3 linked regions of the Homo sapiens genome follow. The protein of the gene in region 2 interacts with the protein of the main gene of each other region in a pairwise test. Each region holds a gene or a part of one and is shown on either strand. Other genes may lie near its edges.

Region 1 (3,753 bases), on a different chromosome or scaffold from region 2:
TCGCTTGAACCAGGGAGGCGGAGGTTGCAGTGAGCTGAGATCGTGCCATTGCACTCCAGCCTGGGCAACAAGAGCAAAACTCTGTCTCAAAAAAAAAAAAAAAGTCCAATAAGGGCCGGGAGTGGCTCATGCCTGTAATCCCAGCACTTTGGGAGGCTGAGGTGGGTGGATCACCTGAGGTCAGGAGTTCAAGACCAACCTGCCCAACATGATGAAACCCCGTCTCTACTAAAAAAACACAAAAATTAGCTGGGCGTGATGGCGGGTGCCTGTAATCCCAGCTACTTGGGAGGCTGAGGCAGGAGAATCGCTTGACCCTGAGAGGCAGAGTTTGCAGTGAGCCGAGACTGCGCCACTGCACTTCAGCCTGGGCGACAGAGCAAGATTCTGTCTCAAAAAAAAAAAAAAAAAAGGTCCAATAAAATGGTGATGCTATTTTCAACACCTTCTAATGGCTTCCAAACTTCTAACTTATCCTTATCTTAAGTTCCCTCAAGTACCCCTGGACCTGCCCTGTGCATTCCTCAGACCTCATCTCTGCACTCTCGTGGGACACACTGGGCTCCACCCATAACGGGCTCTGATTCCTTGAACATGCAGCTCATTGTCATCTCGGGGCTTCTGCCTTCTCTGTTCCTTCTGCCTACCATGCTCTTCCTCTTAAGCTCCTCACACTTGGCTCCTTCACATGTTTATTTATCTTTGAGTTAGAGTTTCACTCTTCTTGCCCAGGCTGGAGTGCAATGGCACGATATCGGCTCACTGCAACCTCGGCCTCCTAGGTTCAAGCGATTCTCCTGCCTCAGCCTCCTGAGTAGCTGGGATTACAGGCTCCCACCACTACGCCTGGCTAGTTTGTTGTTTGCATTTTTAGTAGAGACAGGGTAATGCAAGCCCTAAATGCCAGCCACACACGTGACTTACAACTTTCTAGTAGCCATGTTAAAAAAGTAAAATCATTGGGAGAAATTAATTATAATAATATGTTTCATTTAACCCCGCAAATAAAAAAAATCATTGGAACACGTTACCAAAATGAAAGTTATTAACGAGATAAATTGTATTATTTTGATCATACTAATGATTAAACTACACTAAGTATATTTTACACTTAAGCACATTTCAGATCAAGATAGAAACATAGGCACTCAAAAGCCACCTGTGGCAAGTGGATGCTCCATTACAGCACTGCTCTAGAATTTAGGAGGTGTTTGTCAGAGAGCAGGAGTTCCATTGATAAATTTTAAATTGTCAGTCCCCAACTTACCAGCAGCTAAGCTCCTTTTCCTGTGTGCTTCTTGGCTTCCTGTGGAGCAACACCGGCTCTAAGGGCTTTCGCGGAGACTACTGAATGATGGGGGAGGGACAATGGAGCTGGAGCCAATCCCCTAACAGAAACTCAGGATTTCTTATAATTTTCAGAAGACACCTTGGGTATGTTGTCAGCGGACTCTTCTTAGAAACCAATGTGTCTGAATGTTCCTTCACCTCTAGCCTTCTGTGAGAGACTGGAGTTCATGCTTCCAAATGTCAAGGGTCAAGGAATCTGAATGTCCAGCCCTTCCTTCTTCAGAGTTTCATGAAAATGAAAGAAACAATTACTGAAGTGGGAAGAGTTTCAGCCACGCAATCAAGCCCAAATATGATGATTAAGTCAAACTCAATTCTCGACTTATGCAGTACTTCTGGCATCAAATGTGTGGGTCTTTTCCATATCAAGCAATTCTCCAGTTCTCTGGGGACACCACTGGGTATCTCACAATTCAATTCAGCTCCGACGCTGTCTACCTGGAGTTAGTGTCAGATCCCACAAGTTAAAGGGCTCACTCTCCCAAAACTGTCCTCACTTCAGACACCAATCCAAGTCCCAGGTGGCCACCTGTACTTCTGACTGACTGGCTATAAATCGGGGGTGGGGGGATGTTTATAACCCCTTCCTCTGTTCTGATAATTTGTTAGAATGGCTCACAGAACTTAAGAAGGCACATTACTGGCTGGGCGCTGTGGCTCACACCTGTAATCCTAGCACTTTGGGAGGCCGAGGTGGGTGGATCACTTGAGGTCAGGAGTTGAAAACCATCCTAGCCAACATCATGAAACCCCACCTCTACTAAAAATACAAAAAAAATTAGCTGGGCGTGGTGGTGGGCACCTGTAATCCCAACTACTTGGTAGGCTGAGGCGGCAGAATCGCTTGAACCTGGGAGGCGGAGGTTACAGTGAGCCGAGATTGTGCCACTAAACTCCAGCCTGGGCAACAGAGCGAGACTCCATCTAAAAAAAAAAAGAAAAGAAAAGAAAAGAAGAAGGCACATTACCTACATTTACTCGTTTGTTCTCAATGGAGTTCACATATCGAGAAATAAAAGGTGGTAGGTATTGTATAGGTGCAGGTCTCTAAAGAGGTGCTTCCTTGCTGGCTGCTGGAGACATAGAGATCAATCAGACATGGGCTCTGCGGACCACCTGAATAGAGAGGTGAGAATGCAGTGCTTAGTTACAATAGGGTGGGGGCACGTAGTGATAGACAGATGCCTGGCTCCTTGTGAGGTCCTCTAAAAGGAACCACTAACTCAGATTCACGGATCTAGAGTCAATATCCGGAGGAGGGAACATGTAGGCTGAGTCTTAAAGACTCAGATAAAGGAGAAAAAATAATGCATTCTTGTCAGAGGGGAGTAAAAATACCCACGAAAGGGGTCACAAAAAAGCAGGTTACTTTTGTTTACCAGAGCATAGATGATAAGGCAGACAGCAATAAGCATTAAGTATGTAGAGGGCGGCAGAGGCAATTTCTTGGTTGGTCTTGAATGCTGTAAAAAGAACTTAGAATTTCTTCTTAAAATTTCTTTCTTATATATATATATATTTTTATTATTATACTTTAAGTTTTAGGGTACATGTGCACAATGTGCAGGTTAGTTACATATGTATACATGTGCCATGCTGGTGTGCTGCACCCATTAACTCGTCATTTAGCATTAGGTATATCTCCCAATGCTATCCCTCCCCCCTCCCCCCACCCCACAACAGTCCCCAGAGTGTGATGTTCCCCTTCCTGTGTCCATGTTTCCTCATTGTTCAATTCCCATCTATGAGTGAGAACATGCGGTGTTTGGTTTTTTGTCCTTGTGATAGTTTACTGAGAATGATGATTTCCAATTTCATCCATGTCCCTACAAAGGACATGAACTCATCATTTTTTATGGCTGCATAGTATTCCATGGTGTATATGTGCCACATTTTCTTAATCCAGTCTATCATTGTTGGACATTTGGGTTGGTTCCAAGTCTTTGCTATTGTGAATAGTGCTGCAATAAACATACGTGTGCATGTGTCTTTACAGCAGCATGATTTATAGTCCTTTGGGTATATACCCAGTAATGGGATGGCTGGGTCAAATGGTATTTCTAGTTCTAGATCCCTGAGGAATCACCACACTGACTTCCACAATGGTTGAACTAGTTTACAGTCCCACCAACAGTGTAAAAGTGTTCCTATTTCTCCCCTTTCCAGCACCTGTTTTTTCCTGACTTTTTAATGATTGCCATTCTAACTGGTGTGAGATGGTATCTCATTGTGGTTTTGATTTGCATTTCTCTGATGGCCAGTGATGATGAGCATTTTTTCATGTGTCTTTTGGCTGCATAAATGTCTTCTTTTGAGAAGTGTCTGTTCATATCCTTTGCCCACTTTTTGATAGAGTTTTTTGTTTTTTTCTTGTAAATTTGTTTGAGTTCATTGTAGATTCTG
Region 2 (3,753 bases):
TCCCAACAACCTTTGAGAATGGACGCTGCATCCAGGCCAACTACTCACTAATGGAAAACGGAAAGATCAAAGTGTTAAACCAGGAGTTGAGGTGAGTGGCTGTGGGCGTCCGGGGCCAGGCCTGCGGAGTGCTGATGCAGAGTGACTGGGTGTCCGGCAGCCTGGGTCAGGGAGGATGGGAACCTTGCTGGATCGGGACTGCCTGCTCCTAGCAGGAATTGAGAGGAAAGCGTTTGGCAGGCAAGGATGGCAAGGACTAGGATCCACTTATGCATTTCCATGACCACCTGCGGGGCACAAACTGACAGGGTTCCTGCACTCACTGCAAAATAGATACTCTGGTAGCAAAGAACATCAAGACCATCTCTTCTGACCTCCAGTCTGGGAGAGAAGCCGCTTCGACACCATCTGCTGACAGAAGCATCCAGCTTTGTTCAAACACTTCCAGGAACTGGGAGCTCATCGCCTTCCAGGACAGTTCATCCCATCTCTGGGCAGCTTAATCTATCAGAAAGCTCCTTTTCTTATTAAGCAAGAATCACATACACAACATTCACACTCTAGGTTATGTAAACAGGATATCCTTTAGAAGTGTACATTTCTATTACTGAGGGCTTCTAACACAATAATTAATCCAAAAAGCTACGCTTTGGAAAGCAACTATAAACTTAAAAAGAGCCCCAGGAAGAGCTCCTTCCTACCCACCTTCCACTCTTGAAAATACAAATGCAGTTTTTCCATGAACATGTTGTGACTTCATGGTCAGAGACTGGTGTCCTGAAAACCGTTCTAGAGCAAAATGCAATTGACGGTGAAAAGGGCAGAATCTGCTGGGAGGAGACTGGTTTGTTGCTAAGTTAACGTATGCAGATAGAAACAGACCATCTTCCCCAGCTGTCTGAGATCCAGATGAGAGAGGAGGGCACGGTCTCCAGCTTTACATGGTGATAAACAGAGAAAGTACTTGGGAACATCAGAGCACAGTTCCCAGAATCCCTGGCCTGTTGCTCATTGTCCTGTTTCTAGGACATCCGTCACCACTAACCATAGCATTAACCTACTGACTTTCTTTTTTTTTTTTAATTGTATTTTAGTAGAGACGGGGTTTCACTGTGTTGGCCAGGCTGGTCTTGATCTCCTGACCTTGTGATCCGCCCCCCCTTGGCCTCCCAAAGTGCTGGGATTACAGGCGTGAGCCACCACGCCCGGCCAACCTACTGACTTTCTAACACATACGACTGCTCTAATTTCAGTTGGCCTCCCTGCTCTGCCTTGAGGATTGATAAACAGACATCCTCTCCTCTGTTGGCTTCCTAGGAAGAGCACCCTGATGCCTTAGCACCCTCCCTTTGGTGCCTCCATCTCCACACCTTTCCCCTTCTCCCAAGTTCATGGGGCCATTGGGAGTCATCTAGAAAGCAGGCTCATTCAAAGAGGTGAAAGTATTGCATCCAATCTAAGCCCCCAGCTTTTAAGACACACCACTGCGTTATATGCCACTAAGAAAGGAATGACACTGCTAATTGTCAGGTGACATCAATTGTGAGATATGCATTTCTTCACATTTAATGTCTCTGAAATCTGGGCATACCTGAGAATCACTGAGATAAAGTAAATGTTTCTTCACTGCCTCCTTTTACTTGGCCTACATTGAAATCCCCCACACTCACTCAGAGGCTTGCTGAACTAGAGGGAGTCTCTGGACTCAGGCCCCTTGATGGGACAGGCGATGTCACATGATATCACTGAGGCCCAAAGAAGGGGAACGCTTTTATGTCTCCTTGTTTTGAATTATTTTCAGTGATCAAGTCCATCCTCATCTGTACCTTTGGCCCTTCTCGTTTTAAAAAGAAGTGAATCTGCCAGGCACGGCGGCTCACGCCTGTAATCCCAGCACTTTGGGAGGCTGAGGCAGGTAGATTGCCTGAGGTCAGGAGTTTGAGACCAGCCTGGCTAACATGGTGAAACCCCGTCTCTACTAAAGATACAAAAAATTAGCCAGGCGTGGTGGTGCATGCCTGTAATCTCAGCTCCTGGGGAGGCTGAGGGAGGAGAATTGCTTGAACCGGGGAGGCAGAGGTTGCAGTAAGCCGAGATCGCACCACTGCACTCCAGCCTGGGGGACAGAGCAAGACTCCATCTCCAAAAAAAAAAAAAAGTGAATCTTCTTTGTGTGTTGGGTTGTTTTGTTTGTTTTTCCATTCTCTTTTCTCCCTTTCTTTGGAGACTGGGAGCAGGAATTGGTCTTTCAGGCCATAGAAGATAGTCAGAGATAGTGTTGAAGTGCAAGGGCCTAACATACTGTCCCATCCTGGAGCTTGTCAATTGCGGCTTCTTATCACCCCGCTGCTCTCTTCCCCTGCTTGGCCTCAGAGACAGTCACAAGGGAAAGGCCAGGCCATGGAGCTAGGGTCTAGCCTGCCTTTGAGAGCCTCTCTTACCAGAAATCACGGTGTTGGCTGCCACGGTCCTTAGTGGCACAAATCTTGCCTTTCGTTGCTTATTGGCTTTCAATGAGTTGTTTTTCTTTTCTCTTTTCGTTTTTTGTATTTTTTCTTTTTTTAACTCACTGCAGAGCTGATGGAACTGTGAATCAAATCGAAGGTGAAGCCACCCCAGTTAACCTCACAGAGCCTGCCAAGCTGGAAGTTAAGTTTTCCTGGTGTAAGTATCCACTTTTCCCAGGAGGATTCAGGGACAGGAAATATGCAAACTGAAGGCTAGCGCCCCGGCTTGGAGAATTCCTGAGACACCTGAGTGTCATCTATAATCACTCAGCACATAATTATCTGTCAAACACTTACTACATGTCACGCACTAGGGTTGCCATGATGAGCCGGACAGAGCTGGCCTTGGTACTTATGGAGCTCACATCCCAGTGTGGATACTGACACGTGACCCCGCAATTTACTATAACTAGCTAGCGTTTCAACAGGTGAAACACAAGTAGGTGCACACCGGGTGTGGGCTGCAGAAGACACAACCCAGTCTTGTTTCCCAAAGGAAACTGGGGCCCGAAACATTAGCAGATATTAGCAGAACAACCTGCACGGCGCAGAAACTAGGAAGCAAGAGATGACAAGAGTGACGGCAAGTTTGAATCCTGCTTCTGCCACTTTCCAGTCACATTGTTGGGGATCCTGTGAGATACCTAATGACAGGCATTTGCCTCTGGGTTCTGAGCTAACTGAGGAAGGGACACAGGCAATAGAGAAAGCACCAAATATTAGTTTTATTTCCGACGAAGATACACTAGAGAGTTCAACCCAGAACTGTGAGGCTTTCTAACACGAAGAGTGCTTGAAAGCCCCTTTCCCACCTGCAGGGTAGACACTGAAGTCATCAGCTACAAAAGTTACTCCCTGCACTTCCTACTTCTCATCTCTGCCACTCCTCCACCCCACACCAGTCAAGTGCCTAGAGCGGGGAGGAGAGGAAGTTCTAATTTTATAGACCAAGAAAGGAATGCTGGGAGGAGAAAACAGTTCTTCTCACACTATGAATATGGACAACTAACTTCACATGTACAAGCCAGAAATAACTGCCCAGTGTCGTGAAAATAAACCAGATACACACGCTCTGTAAACTGTAAAGGGCTTTATACACAGTTTCTCTTGTTATTTTTATCAAGAAGGGAGCTAAAGTGCAGGTGGGCTGAGTGACGCAGGCCATCACTGAACTCATTAGAAGTAGAGTTGGGACCTAAACCTAGGTCTCCAAACTCTCAACTGAGTATTTTTCCCATAGGGATCA
Region 3 (3,753 bases), on a different chromosome or scaffold from region 2:
TGATCTTCCACTGCACTTCTGGTCCTCTTCCAGGATTTCCTCTCCCAGGGCTCAGCAGCACCTTCCCCAGCAAGTTAGGAACTCAGGAACCAACTTTTCTCAGTCTCTTTTCCTCATCTCCCACATCTAATCCATGAAATTCTTCCAATTTTAAGATATAAAGAACTCTTGGATCCCTCCATTTCTCCACTGTCAAACTACCACCCAATTCTGGAATTCTGTAATACCCCCAAATGTATCTGCCTATGACCATTCCAAGCCCCCTCCAATCCCCTCTCCACCTCACAGCTCGGAGGATCTTTTCAAAACTCTAATCTGATCATGTCGTATTTCTGCTTAAACCACCTTAATGACTTACACTTTTAGCCCTAACTACCACTTACAAGGCCTAGTAAGGTCTGACCCTTGCCCACACCTCAGGGCTCATTTTGCATGCTGTACTCCTTCACTCTCTCTGGGGCCAACCACAGTAAATTTCTCTCATTCTTTGAGAGGCATCATGCTGTCCCCTACCCCTTACCCCCAAAGCCACCAAGGACTTTGTACATGCACTTTCTTCCCCACTTCATGTAGTTAATCCCATGCTTCTTTCTGATCTCAGTCCACACATGACTTCCTTGGAGAAGCCATCAGAGATCTCTCCAACAAAGTCAAATCCTTTTGCTATATTTGCTTATGGAAATATGGCCCCCATCTTTGCAGCATACATCTCAGTTGTGATTTTGTATTTATGTGTGTGGGATTATTTCACTTACATCTGTCTGCTTCACTAGACTCTAGGCTCTGTGAAGGACAAGAACCCTATGTGCTCTTGTTAAGTGCAGTGCTTGGCACATAATGAGTGTGCAGTAAATAGTTGTTAGATGAGTGAATGGGAAGACCAGAGAACGCTCTTGCATGTTATTAGCTGTAGTCACAGTAAGAAAGTCCTGTTTCTCTGGTCCATCCACTGGGACTTGGTAATGGTGTGGTCATAGGTAACTCTTCTAGACAATGGTATTTATGATAACTTCATCAGGAATTAAAGCCAAAGTGCTGAGGTTTTGTCCTGGTTCTGCAGTAGTGTGGCCTCAGGCAGGTTATAACTTTTTAAAGTCTAAATTCTAAATGTCACCTACAGATGAGAAGTCTCCTTCTGCCTTTGGCCTCTCACCAGCTGCTTTCTCCATGTCCTCTCCTCCCTCCCTTTTTGCAAAGCTAGGGGAGGGCCTGATGCAGAGCTGGCTTCCCTGTGGGAGGACTGGAAGGAACCACACAGCATGGATACTAATTCCATGAGTCCACATTGGTAATCAGAAACTAGGCCTGCCTTGCTATTTAGAAACTAATGCTATATTCTATTTCTTCAGATAAGCCAGTTTTGAAAAACAAGGCTTGAATATTTGGCAGGACAAGGAGCTACTCCCAAACACAGTTTCTTGCCAGCAAGGATGTCAATTTATCAAATTGAAAGGGTATAACCTAGGAGCCTCGGTTAGGTGTACTGGCTCCCTTTCTCGTTTGATTAGAATGACATACACGCTAATTGATCTCTTTCCGGCTCAGTCATCTCCATGCAGTAAAGAATTTCAAGCTGCTATTGTTTATTTCCTATGTATTATGTCTAAATATTTCATGGTGAATGAAGAAGAGTGACTATTTTCAAACTGGAATGCTTCTTCAGAAGAAACCCAAACTGGAATGTTTCTTCAGAAGAAACTTCAGAAGTCACCAAAAAGGTGACTCCTCCATCTTTCTGATTCTTGGATCCTAAAGTATCTTCAGCAAGTGAAGCCCAGTTTCATAACCGAAGAGGTGACTCCATCTGTCCTACAGACTTGCAGTGTGAAGCTTGCAATGGTTTCTCTGTATGTTAATTTCTCCATCTCTAGGATGGCCTATGTGGTTCTTACTAACCTCAGAGTGGTATCATGAAGCCACTGAAATGATACCAGAAGAAAACAAGAGTGATTAATCTTCTAGGATGATAAATCTATATTTTCTTCAAATTCTTCATTTTGCATAAAAACCTTTTTCAGAAAAGAATGTTAACATTGGATATATCTACACCTGATTTGACAGTTCCAAACTACACCCCAACCACCCACTTCTGAATGAGAAGAAAAAAAAATCAGAAGCCTGCAATTGTGTAACATGAAAATCTTTTCTGGACCAGGGCCCGTCACTGTGATTTGGCAACACAACTGGCACATCTCTTTTCTCATCTCTTGAAAAAAACCAACAGAGAAAAAAGTACCTTGAGAATAAAGGTAATGATTAATCTGTCAGGCACAAAAGGGATTGTTTTGGGGATTTCGGGTTCTAAGTCGCAGATTCAAACAAATAGCAGCGAACAGGGAATGACAGTTCCACCAGAAGACGATTAAGCCACAGCCTCTAATTGGAACGGCATTTGTACAGTCAGAGACTCTTACCAGACATCTCCAGGAATCTGTGAGCCATTGTCAAAACGTCCATTTTCATCTGGCTGTGAAAGTGAGGACCACAACAGGTAGGTATTGGTAGAAACAGGAGTCCTCAGAGAAGCCCCAAGATGCAGCCTGAGGGAGCAGAAAAGGGAAAAAGCTTCAAGCAGAGACTGGTCTTGAAGAGCAGCTTAGCGAAAGAAACCCTCTCTGAGTTCTTGGGCACGTTCATCTTGATTGTAAGTATTTCCTGATTTCCTACATTCAGACCCAATAATGCCTCCCTAGCTGCCAGGCTGGTAGTGGAGAGTTTTGTTTGGTTTGTTTTATTTAAGTTAATTGGGATCAGATTCATCTTTTCCAGGAAGAAACAAGTTACTAGAGGCTGTTTGACTATTTAGGGGTTGTGATATTAAGTTTTCAATTACCTATTGCATTTACCCACAAAAGTTGATGGGAATGGAAGAGAAGGAGTGAGTGAAGTGCCTTCTTTATTTCAGGTATTTACTTATACTCTAAAATGGCTTTGTGATTTAAAAGTCAGTCGTTAGTGTTTTCATTGATCAATTGATTTGTACCCTGCTTGCTTCCTCCAAGCATTGGGGTGACTCAGCCACCTGGAATAAGCATCAATAGTCAATAAATATAGTTGGCAAAAATATACATATGGATGGCAAGAAACATCTCAGTATGACAAGTACTTGACAAGTATTGTGCTGTCAGATCACTTGATTTTTAAGAAATTAAAAATTGCACTAGGTAGAAATAGTGTACCAGGCAATAGTCCAGCTTTAGTTTTGTGTCATTTTTGGTCTCTATTTAAAGCAAAGTAATCTCTAAATATCTTTGGAGATTTACAAGACAATTACAAGAACCTTCTAGATATAAACGAGGGACGACTTCTAAGAACCTCTTGAGGATTGCCCAGAGATTTACTCAGCTATTAACAAGAGACTGGAAAGTTTACTTAAGTGGTCTGGGCTTTCATTTTGCTGCACGTTCTAGCATTCTCTGTATCCTGAAGTTTTACCTGGAACCAGGCCATTTGTGAATAGAAATGTATTATCATGTGGCAACTATTGATTTCAACTGGTTTTTTTTATCCTGCTTAAGGATTTCCTACTCCAGGTATAAATAATTTCATTTTCCTTAAAGTTATAGAGAATAGCCCATAAACTCTGTGCATTAAAAGTTCTTTGCTTGGGGCAAATACATAATAATTTAGAAGAATAAGCTTGGAATGCATCAGCTAAGCCAAGAATGAGAAACAAATGTGAACTCAAAAAATTGAACTAGTGGAATGTGAAGAGAGAGTCATAAGTTTTCTGGTCTCTGAGAAACACATTAG

Evidence for each region.
Region 1: the proteins of APOD (region 2) and FPR2 interact in binary tests that used the Homo sapiens proteins (3 or more experiments, as listed by UniProt).
Region 3: the proteins of APOD (region 2) and AQP9 interact in binary tests that used the Homo sapiens proteins (3 or more experiments, as listed by UniProt).

The regions. Positions count from the first base shown.
Region 1 is NC_000019.10:51,758,745-51,762,497, reverse strand, and holds the start of FPR2 (N-formyl peptide receptor 2), read right to left. Parts: upstream 1,319-3,753; 5' UTR 1,268-1,318; intron 1-1,267. UniProt on the Homo sapiens protein: Low affinity receptor for N-formyl-methionyl peptides, which are powerful neutrophil chemotactic factors. Binding of FMLP to the receptor causes activation of neutrophils.
Region 2 is NC_000003.12:195,570,188-195,573,940, reverse strand, and holds part of APOD (apolipoprotein D precursor), read left to right. Parts: coding exon 1-91; intron 92-2,575; coding exon 2,576-2,664; intron 2,665-3,753. UniProt on the Homo sapiens protein: APOD occurs in the macromolecular complex with lecithin-cholesterol acyltransferase. It is probably involved in the transport and binding of bilin. Appears to be able to transport a variety of ligands in a number of different contexts.
Region 3 is NC_000015.10:58,136,033-58,139,785, forward strand, and holds the start of AQP9 (aquaporin-9), read left to right. Parts: upstream 1-2,348; 5' UTR 2,349-2,533; coding exon 2,534-2,644; intron 2,645-3,753. UniProt on the Homo sapiens protein: Aquaglyceroporins form homotetrameric transmembrane channels, with each monomer independently mediating glycerol and water transport across the plasma membrane along their osmotic gradient.